2 separate regions of the Homo sapiens genome follow, and region 2 is linked to region 1. A link means that fine-mapping ties the variant in region 1 to the expression of a gene that starts in the linked region. Tissue or cell type: whole blood. Region 1 holds a variant in brackets; the other region holds the start of a gene. All regions are shown on one strand. Distances are from middle to middle.

Region 1 (8,107 bases):
ACTTTTATGCTTATCCCCCATGCTGTGGAGAACATAGAAAAAAATGATGTTCTTAAGTAGCTTATGCTTAAGTTGGGGAACATGGTACACATTCCTGAAATAACTATTGAAGAAATAGGTGCTAAAGTATGTGATGCTGACTGTAAGTTGCACAGTTGTTTGGGGAAGGGAGCATCAGCCAATGTTGACTGGGGCGGTCTTGGCTGAGGGGAGGCGGGAGTGGAGATTGTGTTAGGCCTGATAAAGTCTGTGTAGATAAAGAGATGATTAAACAGGCTTTCTAGGTGGTAGGTGAGGTAACCAGCATAACCAGGCTGTATTCACTCTGGCTCTATAAAAAAACTCTCTTTCCATTTGAAAGCACTCACCACACCCCGACGACCCTCCACCCCACCCTCGTGCTTCACACTTTAATCATCTGGGCCCAGAGCAGCTGTCACCCATCAGGCTAATATACATCAAGCACTACTGCAAATTACATCATCAGAACCGATTAGCCCTTGAACATGTCAGCATAATAGCACTTCTATCTTCTCTGGGTGACTCGTTAATTAATCTCTGGAATATGCTGTCTTTGACATCATTGGGGAGTTAAATTTTTCCTAGATTGAAAGTAGCCCTGGGGAAAATTATAAGTTGATAAGAGAAACAAAATTCTATTCAGCCGCCCAGCTTTATGCTAATGCTCATGAAATGTCATGGCTACTTGAACCTATAGGCATGTGAAAGGAAAATAAATCTCAGTACCCCCAAATCACTAAACCAAAGGGAAAAGTCAAGCTGGGAACTGCATAGGGCAAACCTGCCTCCCATTCTACTCCTCAATAAGATAGCTACAAAGATAAAAAAGCTATATACCTCCCTTACAATCTGCCCACAAGAAAATTCCCTGCGGACAAAAGGACAGACAGAACTCAAAGCCATTCCTCTGTTCACGTAAGACAAATGCATATCTGATTGCTACCTTCGGCCTATTGTTTCACTAAGCCAGACAAAGGCCTAAGTGACTGTTCCTGTAAATTGCCGTATTCAGTGAAAGGCTCATCAGAAACTCAAAAGAATGCAACCGTTTGTCCTTTATCTACCTGTGACCTGGAAGCCCCCACCACACTTCAAGTTGTCTTGCCTTTCTGGACCAAACCAATGTACGTCTTATGTATATTGATTGATGTCCCGTGTCTTCCTAAAATGTAAAATACCAAGCTGTGCCCCAATCACCCTGGGCACATGTCTTCAGGACTCCTGGGGCCATGTCACGAGTGCATTCTTAACCTTGGCAGAATAAACTTCCTAAATTGAGTCTTGTCTCAGATATTCTTTGGTTTACAGGCACATGTTGAAAAATAAAGCAAAGTACAAAATAATGCTCTGTGTTTTCTCTGGAATCACATTAACATTTAAAATGATCAGTTTTTTTTTTTTTTTGAGACGGAGTCTCACTATGTTGCCATACTGGAGTGCAGTGGTGCGATCTCGGCTCACTGCAACCTCCGCCTCCTGGGTTCAAGGGATTCTCCCGCCTCAGTCTCCCGAGTAGCTGGGATTACAGGCACGCGCCTCCACTCCCAGCTAATTTTTGTACTTTTAGTAGAGACAGGGTTTCACCATGTTGGCCAGGATGGTCTCGATCTCCTGACCTCGTGAAAAATGATCAGTTTTTCCATACGAGTGACAAGAAGGCAAAATGTGGGGTCTTACACATTCACACACTCACTTTTTAATTCCTCTCAACTTTAAATGTAACTGTAAACACTAAGAAGAATGCAAACTTGAAAAAAATACTTTATTGAAATATAATATAGCTACAGATCAAGAAACACAAAATAACCAGTAGCCCCACAAGCCCTCTTCATGCTCCTTTGAAGTCAACACCCTTCATCAAAGGGTAATTGATTCTTTACCTCTAATAGCATAGAACAGCTTTGACTGGTTTTGTACTTTATATAAATAGAGTCATATGATATGTACTGTCTTCTGTGTTTGCCTTCTTTCATTCCACATCACATTTGAGAGATTCAAGAGAAATAGCTTTTGTAATTAATATATACTCAACATTTTAAAAATTGGAGCTGGGTGCGGTGTTTCAGGCCTATAATCCCAACATTTGGAGAGGCTGAGACGGGAGGATCACTTGCACCTAGGAGTTCAAGACCAGCCAGAGCAATATAGTGAGGCCCCCAACTCTACCAAAAAGAAAAAAAAATTGGAAAACATCCCTTTAGATTACTTTTAAAATCGTATGTATGGGCTGGGCACGGTGGCTTACATCTGTAATCCCAACACTTTGGGAGGCAGAAGTGGGCGGATCATGAGGTCAAGAGATCGAGACCATCCTGGCCAACATGGTGAAACCCCATCTCTACTAAAAATACAAAAATTAGCTGGGCATGGTGGTGGGCGCCTGTATTCCAGCTACTCAGGAGACTGAGGCAGGAGAATCGCTTGAACCCAGGAGGCAGAGGTTGCAGTGAGTCGAGATCGTGCCACTACACTCCAGCCTGGCGACAGAGCAAGACTCCATCTCAAAAAAAAAAAAAATTGTATGTATGTCTGTACACAATTTATTTGACCAAGACTATAAATTTTTATAAATGTCCTGCCTAAAAAGAAAAGTTATTTTTTCTTTTTGACATTTTCATTAATTCTTTTATCCTGGCCTATTATAATGAATATTAATCCAATTTCTCCAAAACTTAATCTTTACCCAGCTCCAAATGCCTTACAATCTTTGTAGCATTTTTATGAGAAGAGAAATATAAGAATAACACAAAGGTGTTTTCCAGCTGGTGGACCCACTAGCAGCTGGTGACCACTAGGGAGGTCGATGTGTTGCCAGCTCTGTCCCTGTAAGGACATCTGTCATCTGTCAGAGCAATACTCTGGGACTTTCTCAGAAGAGTGCATGTGCATCAAGACTTGGCTGATTGTTTCCACTCACTTAATTATAAGCCTGAGTCCAGTTAAAAAAAAAAAGGGAGTTCACCTATCACATAAACTACCAGTAATCATGGGAACTTCCAAAGTTGGCAAGACACTGTGGATTTATGACTTAAATGACCAGGAATAATGTAGAACGCCAGGCAACAGTCACATAGATTTTTATACCATAAACTCCACAAACCATGCACAGTGTTGCCCTGTGATACAGGCTTTCTAAAAAAATTCTTTGATTTTCTTAATTTTAAAAATTGTGTTAAAATACATGTAACATAAAATTTACCATCTTAACCATTTTAAGCGTACAGTTCAGTGGTATTAAGTATATCCATATTATTGTGCAATTATGACTGCCATCCATCTCCAGATCTCTTCATTTTGCAAAACTGAAACTCTGTACCCATTAATCAGTAACTCCTCATCCCCCCTACCGCAGCCCCTGACAACCATCATTCCACTTTCTTCAAGATGCAGATTTTTAAAGCACAAAACGCAAAGTTCTCTTGTGTACTCAATCCAGTCTCTTGGGACACAAATTTTCCTTAATTAAAGTCATTCTCTGCTCTCCAGAATGAACCCTAGCCCATTACCTCCTGCCCTCTTCATCTTTGCAAGGGTCATAATCCTTTGGTCAAGTTCCTGCCATTTGGACAGGAAGGATGAGCTATTTGACTCACATGAAAGGACCCAAGTAGCCCTCTTGATGCAGTGGGCAGCACTGTCAGTCTCATAAGTGTAAGGACCTAGAGGGTATCTCACCCTCAGCCATCTCTCCCTTTTATATCTGCTTCTGCTTATTCCAAGAATGAGAAGAAGCAGAAATGCGAATTGCACCCTGGTTCACCTGGGGCCTTCTGCTGACACAGGAATCTCCTTCAAAGTCCATGAGGCGGGATGGGCTGTAACTGTTATCTACAACTAGGCAATTTCTGACTTTGTTCTACAATTCAGTCCTTCACTCCTTAAATTCTTGAGCCACCTTATTCCCCCTGACCAAATGGACTTGCTGTTAACTAAAAGCTATATCACTAATAACTTCTAGTTATGGGTGACTGACAAGATCAGCAAATCATCTTGCCAAAATGCAAACATAAAACTGGACAAAACTGACCAAAACAACCATTTCAGCACTCTGAGATCAAAGACACACAACAGTCTGAAAGCAGTTATGCTTGAAAATGACTGAACTCCAGGTAAGAACAGTGAGCATCTGATGCATTTGGCCTGGGGCCTCTCTCATTCCCCTTGCTGACCCCAGCTTGGTTAATGTAGATGTTCTGTCTGGGAAGGGCAAGCT[C/G]TCAGCGCAAGCAGCACCTCTACCACAGTCAAAGGGGCTCATTCAATTTGGAGTACCCATTCCTAAAGGGAAAAATGAAGAGCACAAAAGTAATAGTTATACAGGTTATTACAAAATCATCTATGGTAATTTTTCTTCTCATTTCTTTTTTTTTTTTTTTTTTTTTGAGACGGAGTTTCACTCTTGTTGCCCAGGCTGGAGTGCAATGGCACGATCTCGGCTCACCACAACCTCTACCTCCCAGGTTCAAGCGATTCTTCTGCCTCAGGCTCCCTAGTAGCTGGGATTACAGGCATGTGCCACCATGCCCAGCTAATTTTGTATTTTTAGTAAAGGCGGGGTTTCTCCTTGTTGGTCAGGCTGGTCTTGAACTCCTGACCTCAGGTGATCCGCCCGCCTCAGCCTCCCAAAGTGCTGGGATTACAGGCATGAGCCACCACGCCCGGCCTCTCATTTCTTATCTAACTTTTTTCAAAGACATGAGATTGTATAAAGCAATAATTACAACATTGTATTGCTGTGTTTATAACATATAGATGTAATATATATGTAAATAATAGCACAAAGAAGGTGGGAGGGATAGAAGAATATTGAAGCAAAATTTTTATGTTTTTCAGGAATTTAGTATTAATCTGAAGTACATTATGATAAATAAAGACATATATTGTAATTCTTAGACTACAATCTCTGAGAAATAGCTAAAACTTTTTTCAAAATGTGGAGTAATTCAGACGTTACCCTAAAAATATTTAACACAAAAGAAAAGAAAAAAGGAAAGCAATCAAGGATTAACCGATTAATAAAAAAGAAAGTTGACATATAGAAAACAAATAGAAAAATAGCAAATATAAATCTAACCATATCAACAATTACATTAAATGTGAATGGTCTACATACCCCAATCAAAACCCAGAGATTATTAGACTGAATAAAAAGACAAGAGCCAACTATATGATATCTATAAGAGGCTTAGATTCAAAGACACAAATAGGCTGAAAGTAAGAAGATGGAAAAAGATACACCATTCAAAGAGTAACTATTAGAGGACTGAAATGGTTATATTAACAGACAAAACAGACTTTAAAACTAGAAATATTACTAGAGACAAAGAGGAACAATTTCATAACAATAAGAGTCAATACATCAGAAAGACATAACAATTAGAAATATATGTGCCTTTAACAACTAAGCTCAAAATACATAAAGTAAAACTGACACCTTTCTCAGAGATAACTCACATGAAGCAGGGGGAAAAGTTACTGTCCTCTGATTACTCCAACTCAGGGCCCCCACTTTATGCTGCTAAGTTATACAGCATTTATCATGACATATTGTAATTGTCTGTTTACTTGTTTGGCTCACCTGGAGCCTTTTTTCCTTTTGTATGCCCAGGATACAGCACTTTTTTCAGTCTGCTCAGCAGATACAGAACAGTTGACTTTTGTAATCAATTAATTAATAAGTGAATGGTATCCTAGGCAGAAGGGGAGAAGCAAAAGACAGAGTGGCATATTGTAGGAACTATAAGTTGTTCCAAATAGCTTGAGTTGTGTATTCCAATGTAAACTATTGATTGGATTTAAGTCCAGACTTATTTGGGCAAACTTTCTTCAATATTTTGAGGATGTATTCTTCAGAACAGCATTGGAGAGATGATGGTCTGAAGTGTAGGATGGCTATGAGGGACTGATGGGAGATGAGCCTGGAGAGGCCAGGCCAGGAGGAACTTGGTAGGAAATGCTAAGAGATTTGAACATTATTCTGCAGACCACATAGAGCCATTGAAATATTTCAGACAAGGGAGTAACATAGTTTAATTTGCATTTTATAAGGCTCACCTTGACAGTGGCACAGATGATGAATTGGAAGAAAGCCAGGCTAAAGGCAAAGAAACTAGTTGGAAGGTAGTGTCAGTAACCCAGGCAATAAATGACAAAAGCCTGGGCTCAGGTTATGGCAGTGGGAACAGGGAAGAGAGGCTGAGTTACGAAAACGCATTTAGAAAACAGAACTGACAGGTCTTCATGACTAATTACATTGTAGGGTGAAACAGAGGGAGGTGTCCTTGAAACATTCCAGGTTTCTGACTTCGACAAAAGGCAGGTGGTGGTGACATTCATCCTGACATTCATCCTGACTTAGAAAGGAGAAATGGGGAAGAGGTTTACTTTGAGGTATCCAGGAGAGTCTGGTTGGAAATTCACATGACAGACTCAGGAGAGTGTTCTGGGCTGGATGTGAAGAATTGAGAGTCACTAGAAGATTGTTTCCACTGAAGTCATAGGTTTGGATAAGGCCACTCAGAGAAAGTACATAGGGTAAGAAGGGAAATGAGCAGGAGATTGAACCTTGGGGAACATCAACATGTAAAAGAGATAACAGGAGAGGACACTGAGAAGGAAGAAACAGAGGCAGTAGGAGGAAAACCTAAAAGGTGAGAAAACCCATCAGGAAGCCAAGGTGGGACTGAGAGAAAATATGATCAAATCAACATCAAATACTAGTACATCAAGAAAAAAAAGATACAGAATGATAAGGAAAGAAAAGTATTCATTGAATTTGAATCTGCTAAGGTTATTGTGAGTCTTAGGAGAGCAATGTCAGTCGAGTGGTGGGCTGTGGTGGGGTGGGTTGAAGACCAAGATAAGCCAAATGATGGTGGGTTGAATTAGAGACCTACCACAGAGAAGTACAGATAGGAAGCATTTAGGACTCTTCCAAGGAGCTTTGCTTTGAAAGGAGATGAGAGTGAGCTGGAGGGCAGTAGTTAAAGGGGAGAAGGGGGTCTTCAGAGATGCTGCTTTTGGAAAGTTTGGATGATGTTAAAGAGAGCAGGAGAGCGTGCTTATGGGCCAAGGGGAAGCCAGAGAGAGAGGGAGGATGACATCATAAGGGATTGAGCCAGGTTGCTAAGGAGGCAGGAGGACAAGTGATACAGATGAGGCCCACTGCATTAGGCCCAGAAATGTTTTCTTATTCTAGTTTCTTCACCACCAATTGATGAATATCCGTAAGACACAATTTTTAGGATAGATTCAGTAAATTGGATTGAGAACACTTCTTATACATTTTTGTACCCCCCACCGTAGTATGTTAGATGTGGCAGGTATACCTACAATTCTTTTTTTTTTTTTTTGAGAGAGAGAGAGTCTTGCTCTGTTGTCCAGGCTAGGGTGCAGTGGCATGACTACAGCTCACTGCAAGTTCGGATTCCTGGGCTCAAGCGATCCTCCCACCTCAGCCTCCTGAGTAGCTGGGACTACAGGTGTACACCACCATGCCCTGCTGATATTTTTCTTTTTTGTGGAGATGGGGTTTCACTATGTTGCCCAGGCTGGTCTTGAACTCTTGGGCTCAAGCAATCCTCCCTCCTTGGCCTCTCAAAATATTGAGGTTATAGGGGTAAGCCACCACACCCAGCCTAACTACAATTTTTAAATTCATTAAATCGTTCCTCTGATGAATAATTAACAACTCCCGTTGTTTACAGGAATAAAGGTAGAAGCTAGCTCAAGACCTTCAGAATCTAACTAAAATCTTGGTCTCCAGGTGGCTTCCACTGCAGCCTCCCTCTCCAGCCAGGCTGCTGTGTTGGCTTACCCAGGAACATGACTCGCCCATCCTGCTGCCTATGCCGTGCTCCCACTCCATCACAGCATCACAGTACCCTTTTCACATAGAGTGAGACTAAGACTAAAATCCACACCAACCATGGCCTACAAGGTCCCTCGGATCTGCCTCCTGCCTATCTCTCCATTGCATATGCAACCGCTCTCCCCACACTCTCTTCTGTTCCTTGAACAGGGAAGTATTTTGCTGCCTCCACACGGTGGCCCTTGCTTTGACTGCTGCCTGAAATGCTCTTTGCTTAGC
Region 2 (8,107 bases), 42 kb before region 1:
ACTTTTTAATACAAAGATTATATATTTTACTATTTTTTAAAAGGCACACAGCCATCAGTTGTCATATAAAAACTACTTTCATCCAGCACACAGCCAAGAGTTTAGTTTCAACTGGTTTAATAGATAAAATAGCTTTCTAGAAATGCAATTCAATTCATAATCTTATGTCATTCTTTTTTTTCTGTTAAAAACAAGAGAAATCCAGCAGGGGGTGAGGGGCAGTGGCTCATGCCTCTAATCCCAACACTTTGGGAGGCCAAGGCAGGCGGATCACCTGAGGTCAGGAAAGACCACCCTGGCAAACATGGTGAAACCCCGTCTCTACTAAAAATACAAAAAATTAGCCCGGCACGGTGGTGCGTGCCTGTAATCCCAACTACTCCGGAGGCTGAGGCAGGAGAATTGCTTGAACCTGGGAGGCGGAGGTTGCAGTGAGCCGAGATTGCGCCACAGCACTGCAGCCTGGGCGACAGAGAGGGACTCCATCTCAAAACAAAACAAAACACAAACAAAACAACAACAACAAAAAAAGAGAAACCCAAAGATAAAATATTGTGAAGGATATTACATATCTTCATTTATATGTCAAATAATACTATTTTTAAAAGAGAAAATAAATTTAAAGTAGTGAAGCTTTTTCAGGCAAGGAAGTAACTGTTAAATGTGTACAGTGCTGGACTGAGTGGAAGGAATACAACAAGTACACGATGGAAGAATGACTCAGACTAAATACACAACATGATTACCTATAGGTTACACATCCCAAATCTGAAAATCTAATCTGAAATGCTCCAAAATCTGAAACTTTCTGAGTGCTAACATGACATGATGTTCAAAGGAAATGATCACTAGAGCATTTTCAATTTCAGATGTTCAATAACTAAGTATAATGCAAATATTCCAAAATCCAAAAAATTCCAAAATCCAAAACACTTCTGGTCCCAAGCATTTGGGAAATGGGATACTCAACCTCATCTCTATTTACAATATAATCTTTGTAACAGTTACTAATTTCTGTAAGCAAATGATAGTTAGAATCAAGTTTATAAACAGTTTTCTACTACATACTACTACGTACTATGTTAAGGTTCCATAGCTTTTTCTTCCAAATATAAGGAAGTTTATAAATCCTCAATTTCTATGGAATCTTGAAAAACAAAAACTTTTAGAAAAAAGAGGCCATAAGAAGACAGATAAGTTTTAATTTCAAATTTTATTTTTTAAAAAACTCATACCCTACTCCTTAGAAGCAGAGAGTAGTGAAATGAAAAAAGAAAAAATAGTGCCAGCCCGTGCTCTTCAAATATCATACTAAAATACAGTCATCAAGATCACAGAAATTCTCCTTGACACAATTTTATAGTGCTCAAATAACTACATGAAATAAGACTCTTGTTCTTCAGAAATTTTTCAATTAATGTCTCAGTACAGGAAGATAGATCACATTTTGCAGAAAGTGTCATGAAAGAATAACACAGGGCTTTAGTATCTCCACACAGTCTGCCCATGCCATTAGAAACCAACAAAATGGTTTATTATCTTCTTGGTTCCTTTCCCTATCTCATCCCAAAGTTTGCATCTATGAGCTCTAAATGTAATAACAGTAATTTCTACCATTTACTGAGCCCTTTCCATGTGCCTTATATTATCTTTTTCAATCCTCACACTGAGGATGTCTTATGGATGAGCAAAGTTAGGCACAGGACAAATAAGAAACTTGCTCAAGGTCATATGCTGCTATTGAGTGAGAGAGCTAAGTTATATTCCAACTCCAGAGCCAGTGCTCTTACTACTAAGCTGTTTATATTCGATAAAACTTATTTACACCATGAAAACTGCCCATAATCACCTACCACCTTCTAACTACAAGATTCTAGGTGCCTTGAGCATTTATTTTTGCCTTTCCAGGCTAATTACATACTCACAGAACTTTAATGGGTGAAAGAATCTAAACTCCTAAGAAAGTTAATATTATGGCTAAGAAAACGGAGGTCCAGAGAAGTTAAGTGTTTTGTCCAGGATTACAACGCTGGTTTGTGACAGCCAGCACTAAAACACAACTCTTGATTCCCAGGAGTGATCTTCCCACTACAATGAAGCCTTGCATCTTATGAAGCTCTTGCTGAAGCCCATACTCTACCCTCCACACAAATAACAAAGCTTATTTTGCCAACTTCCACAGCCTATGATAGCTTCCACGACAGCATTCATATGCAGACAAAACACATTCTTTCATTTCAACAAATAAACAGACACATCACTATACGCTAAGGCAGTGAATGAACCCAAATATGTATCATAATTTTGGCCCTTAATTTTATTATAGAAACATAAACATATTAATTGTAATAAGTGACAAGTGCTATAATAGCCATGTGAACAACGTGTTCTGAAAGCACACAGAGAGGAGTAGATATTTTAGCCTGGATAAAGAATGAGGACTGGGGTTTTGACAAGATGCATTTGAGGCAGGGCAGAGGCAGAAGTGTAATGGTGCTTAGAAAGTAGTAGGCAGCCGGGGACGGTGGCTCACGCCTGTAATCCTAGCACTTTGGGAGGCCGAGGCGGGCGGATCACCTGAGGTCGGGAGTTCAAGACCAGCCTGACCAACATGGAGAAACCCTGTCTCTACTAAAAATACAAAATTAGCCGGGCATGGTGGCGTATGCCTGTAAACCCAGCTACTACGGGAGGCTGAGGCAGGAGAATCGCTTGAACCCGGGAGGGGGAGGTTGCAGTGAGCCGAGATCGCGCTATTGCACTCCAGCCTGGGCAAAAGGGGCGAAACTCCGTCTCAAAAAAAAAAGAAAGTAGTAGGCAAAATGCTCTCATTTCTACCAGTGACTGTTAAAATAAAAAACAATACTAAATATGGGCTCAGAAGACCTGAGTTCAAGTCTAGGCTGAGACTCATGTGACTGTGAACAATTTCAATATCTTCATCTGTGAAATGTGGATACTAATACTGACCTGCCTACCTCACAAGATTTTTGTGGGGGCCAAATTATTTGAAAGTACTTAAAAACTTCAAAGTCCTGTATAAACATAAGTTATTTTCTTACGTTTTCACTTCTAGGCAACCCTGTGGGTCCTTCCCCTAAACGCTGTCTCATAAAAAATTCGCCCTTCAGGATGAAAATACTCCAATGACATCATTCATATGTTCCTTAGGAGATATTAAATAGTTAACATTAATGCCTTCAGGTTGAAACGCCAAGCCTCTTTCTATTGAAATAAATACATGCGTGTGTGTTTTTAACTGCTTAAGCGCTGATACTGACTTCTAGTCAATGCTTACCATAAATATATTTAAAACTAGTACCACATGAAGGTTTTTTGGAAATTTTGTCAGAAATTCCATTCTATTTTATAGTATGCTGTCAAGCAACTAACTCAAGAAGAGACTGCAAGTAGCAATCACTTTGATCCCAACTAGTTCTGTATTAGCTCTAGATACAACCAAATATATATACTGGACCCTAAAAACAGAACTGTTGGAGTACAAGCATGCACGCGAATGCAGTCAGTAGACAAATCCACTGCAAAGTGCAATGAGTTTCTCATTCTAAAATACTTGAAGGGCACAACCAGACCCCTCCTATAAATTAAAGAACACTCTCATTTCCTTTGAAGTTTGAAAGAGTAGACTTTATAACCCTGTCTCCTTTTCCAATCGCTCTTTAAACTCCATCCAGGCCCCATTTTGTTCCACCGTAAACCCGACTTCTTAGCTACTCCTTGGATGATCAGCCAAGTAAAGTTGCATCGAACCGTAACAGTCAAAAGAAGGACAGGATAAGGACCAGGGGAGCAGAAGTCCTCCCGCCACTCCAGGCCAGTGGCTGTTTTACCTTCGCAGTACAACTTCCCGTTTTCCCCCTCTTACCTTGTACACTTTCCCAAAGGCTCCGTCGCCCAGTTCTCCTATAATCTCCCAAAAGTCTTCGGGGTTCAGGTCCCTCTTCACGTGTTCGTACTGCTTCTTCTTCTTCTCGCTCCCCAACTTGAAGATCTTACGGAAATTGAAGAAGGACATTTTTCCTCCCAACACAGAGTTCCTTGCACTTAAGGACTAAAAACAATAAAAGGCAAAGTTTCTCTTCCCTGCTCTCCCGCGCGAGCCCGGCTGGCGGCGGCGGGCGCGGCGTCCCTCGGCCCCCGCAGCTCCGGCCGGGCGGTCCCGGGAGAAGGCGGGGCGGCGACCCGGGCTCCGGCCCGCGGTGGGGGTGCTGCGCGAGCGGCCCCTCCGCCGAGCCCGGCCCGCGAGCCGCGCGGTGGGCGCCTCGCCTCCGGCCCACCCTCCGGGAGCGGCACCTGCCCGCAAGCTCGCTCCCACCCGGCCTGATCCGACGGGTCCGAGCGGTCAGGACTCCCGCGGCGGCGGCTTAGGCCCGTGTCACGGCGAGTCTCCAGGGGCGGCGGCCACTCTGGGAGAGAGAAGCGGCCGGCGGCCTCGGAGGCGGGCAGTCGAGAAGCCGAGCCCTCCCGCCTCGGGCCGCGAGCCTAGGGTCTCCTCCGCCGCCGTCCGCTCCCGCGGCGCAAGGCCCGCGCGTCCCCTCGGGTCTGGGGCGCCGCCGCCGCCGCCTGTCTCCCTCCCCAGCCCACACAGCCTCGGCCTGGAGCGCGCGCCGACGCCGACTCCGTAGCGCGCCCGCGCGCTTTCCCGGCTGCGCGCCCGCCCGGTCACGCGCCCTGCTCACCGCGCGCTCGCGTGGGGGCGTCCCCTCTGGCCCCGCGCACGCGCGCTACGTCCCTCAGACTGGCTGCCCCCGAGGGTTCGCGTGAGCGGAGCACGGGGCTCGGGGTGCGGGGGGCTGGTGTGATGGACGCATTTGTTCTTCGGTCCCTGACGATTGTTTCTCATTTGCCCTCCAAGCCCCAAATCCTGTCAGTCCACGGCCTTGATGGAGCGGCCCCCGTGGGACGACCCTGTTGATTGTGCTAGCGGATGTTGTCTCCATTCTGGATCTGGGAAAAACTGTGGAGTGAAAGCCGGACCTGTTAGGGTTGGGACCTGAAAGCGGACTTTTTCGCTCTCAGACGGGCCCCAGGTACAGTGAGAGGGGAGTTTGTGTGGTGGTTGTGAGCTTGAGCTTTGGAGAGAGAGATCTGTGACCTTGGGCAGGTGACCTCTCCGAGCCTCGGTTTCCTCGCCGTAAAATGAAGATCCTAATAGTCCCTACCAGAAGGTTGTGAATGAGACAATAGATGGAAGCCCTTTGCGCGGCCCCTGCACCCGTAAACGCTCAATCTTAGTTCTTACTCTTGTTGTTTTAAGTGTGCAGGCAAGATAGACACAGATACATAAAAACTGTTTAAGACCACTTCTCTTTTTTTTCTTTCTTTCTTTTTTTTTTTTTTTTTTTTTTTTTGAGACGGAGTCTCGATCTGTCGCCCAGGCTGGAGTGCAGTGGCGCGAACTAGGCTCACCGCAAGCTCCGCCTCCCGGCTTCACGCTATTCTCCTGCCTCAGCCTCCCGAGTAGCTGGGACTACAGGCGCCCGCCACCACGCCCCGCTAATTTTTTTGTATTTTTAGTAGAGACGGGGTTTCACCGTGTTAGCCAGGATGGTCTCGATCTCCTGACCTCGTGATCCGCCCGCCTCGGCCTCCCAAAGTACTGGCGTGAGCCACCGCGCCGGGCCCCCACTTCTCAACTGATGACTGCGACACTCCCTTGAGGGTAAAACTAACTTCTGGCCACCTCCACAACTGTAAACCTGGTGTCACTCTTGGTGACTCCACCTCAGCTAAGGCCCCCACTTCCTGATCTGCCTCCAGCCCCCTTGGGCAGCACTCCCTGGTGGGGCAGTGTGGACGTTGGCTGGAATCCGTCAGGTGGTGACCTACCTTCCCCTCCTCCACCAGACGGGAGCTCTTTCAGGCCAGTGGTTTGTTGTTCATCAAGATATCCAAGTACCCGGCAACATTCCTGGCATATAATAGGAAGGCAGATCTGGTGAATGAATGAATGAATGGCGGTATCTGGAGCAGAGACAATGTATGTATATATTGCTATTTATATAATGTCTGCCCCCCCAGTCATTTTGCCCTTCAGCCCCAAAATGGCATAGCAAAACCCCCCTTCCAGTAAGACGCTTAAGATGATTCAATTCCTTGAGATCCTTCTATTTTTTTAAGTGTTATTGCAATATATTGATATACAATAAACTGTACATATTTAAAGTGTGCATTTGGTTTTTTTGCTAGTACTTGTTTGCTTTTTTTTAAAATTATACTTTAAGTTCTGGGATACACATGCAGAACGTGCAGGTTTGTTACATAGGTATACACGTGCCATGGTGGTTTGCTGCAAGTGTGCACTTTTATATGTTTTGACAAATGTATAGACCTGTGAAAACAATACTATAATTATTTGTAATTATTATCATTTATGGAGAAAATGAAATGCTTAAAAAATAAAATTAAATTAAAAGTACTATAATTCTACTATCCAGACACAACCATTGATAAGAACTTATATTTCAAAACAGGATTTTTTTGGTTGTGCATTAACTTTTTTCAACATGGTTGAGGTTGTATTACATAAAAAGGTTTGCATCCTGCACTTCGCATATTTCAATACAATTAATAATTGTTCTCTTCCATTATGAGATATTTAGATTATAATTCCTCTGTTTTTAATAAAATACGGATAAATATCTTTGTACACAAATCTTTTTCCACATATTTGATTATTTCCTTAGGATAAATTGCCAAAAGTAGATTTCGGTCAATGGGTATATGTCTGTTTCCTTATTTTGTTCTTTTCAAAATAGAAAAGACTTTACTATTTTGTCAATTAAAAGATAGTGTATTACTGGCTGGGTGGGGTGGCTCACACCTATAATCCCAGGCTGAGGTGGGAGGATTTCTTGAGCCCAGGAATTTGAGACCAGACTGGGCAACATGGCGAGATCACATCTACCAAAAATTAAAAACAGAAAAATTAGCTGGGCATGGTGGCACTCACCTGTGGTCTCAGCTACTGGGGAGGCTGAGGCAGGAGGATCACTTGGGCCCAAGAGGATGAGGCTGCAGTGAGCCATGTTTGTGCCACTGCACGTCAGCCTGGGCAACAGAGCTAGAACTTGTCTCGAAGAAAAAATAAAAATGAAAGATAGTATATTTTTGTTGTAAATAATTCAAATAATACAGAAATTATAAACTAGGAAGCTGTCTATAGTTCTGTCCTCCTTCCTTCCCCCCTACTCATAGTTACCCTCGACCTAACCACTGTTAAAAGTTAAGCCTGTGATGATGGATATGTTTATGTAATAGGCAGTGGTGATGTACAGTTATCACCCAGCTCATCTAGTTATATACATTAAGTATGAGCAGCTTATTGTATGTCAATCATAATTCAATAAGTGGTTTTTAAAAAGTCACTAGCAAAGCAAAGATAAAGTTCTGACACCATTAAGAAATAGAAATAGGCTGGGCACGGGGGCTCACACCTGTAATCCCAGCAATTTGAGAGGCTGAGGTGGGTGGATCACCTCAGGTCAGGAGTTTGAGATGAGCATGGCCAACATGGCAATACCCCGTCTCTAACAAAAATACAAAAATTAGCCGGGTGTGGTGTCATGCATCTGTAATCCCAGCTACTCGGGAGGCTGAGGCAGGAGAATCGCTTGAACCTGGGAGGCGGAGGTTGCAGTGACCTGAGATCGTGCCACTGCACTTCACCTGGGCGACAGAGCTAGACCCTGTCTCAAAAAAAAAAAAAAAGAAATAGAAATATTATCATAAATTTTTTCATATATTATGAAAAAAAGAAATGGAAATGAGCCTCTTGTAAAAGCTTTTCCTTTTAATAACATAATACATGGCCAAATAAAAAAAGTTAAGCCCATGAGCATGAGAGAATTTTGGGGGACAATAAAAAAGGGTTTTATAACTAGATTATGGTGATGATTTTACACTTAGAATGGGTGAATTATATGCTTTGTAAATTATACCTCAATAAAGCTACTTTGAAAAAGTTAGGCCTATATATGTTTTTTTCTGTGTGTATGTATGTGTATGTGTGTATATATATATATATATAAATATATATATATATATATTTTTTAAGATGAAGTTTCCGTCTGTCGCCAAGGCTGGA

The links. PIP is the estimated chance that this variant, and not a neighbour inherited with it, causes the effect.
Region 2: it holds the start of SLK, and the variant in region 1 is fine-mapped to the expression of SLK in whole blood (TOPMed, PIP above 0.99).

The regions. Positions count from the first base shown.
Region 1 is chr10:103,921,851-103,929,957 of GRCh38, reverse strand. No RefSeq gene overlaps it. Among named protein-coding and RNA genes, the nearest start is that of STN1, 7.7 kb to the right of the region's middle. RefSeq lists enhancers at 836-1,501, 2,168-2,833. The variant C/G (reference allele first, on the strand shown) is at 4,235.
Region 2 is chr10:103,963,675-103,971,781 of GRCh38, reverse strand. It overlaps SLK (STE20 like kinase), which reads right to left and starts at 4,642. Exons shown (of 19, transcript NM_014720.4): 1 at 3,887-4,642. The coding sequence starts at 4,036. LOC102724351 (a long non-coding RNA gene) reads left to right here and starts at 4,737. Exons shown (of 5, transcript XR_007062282.1): 1 at 4,737-6,001. RefSeq lists enhancers at 1-269, 270-771 and silencers at 4,121-4,220, 4,231-4,280, 4,321-4,780.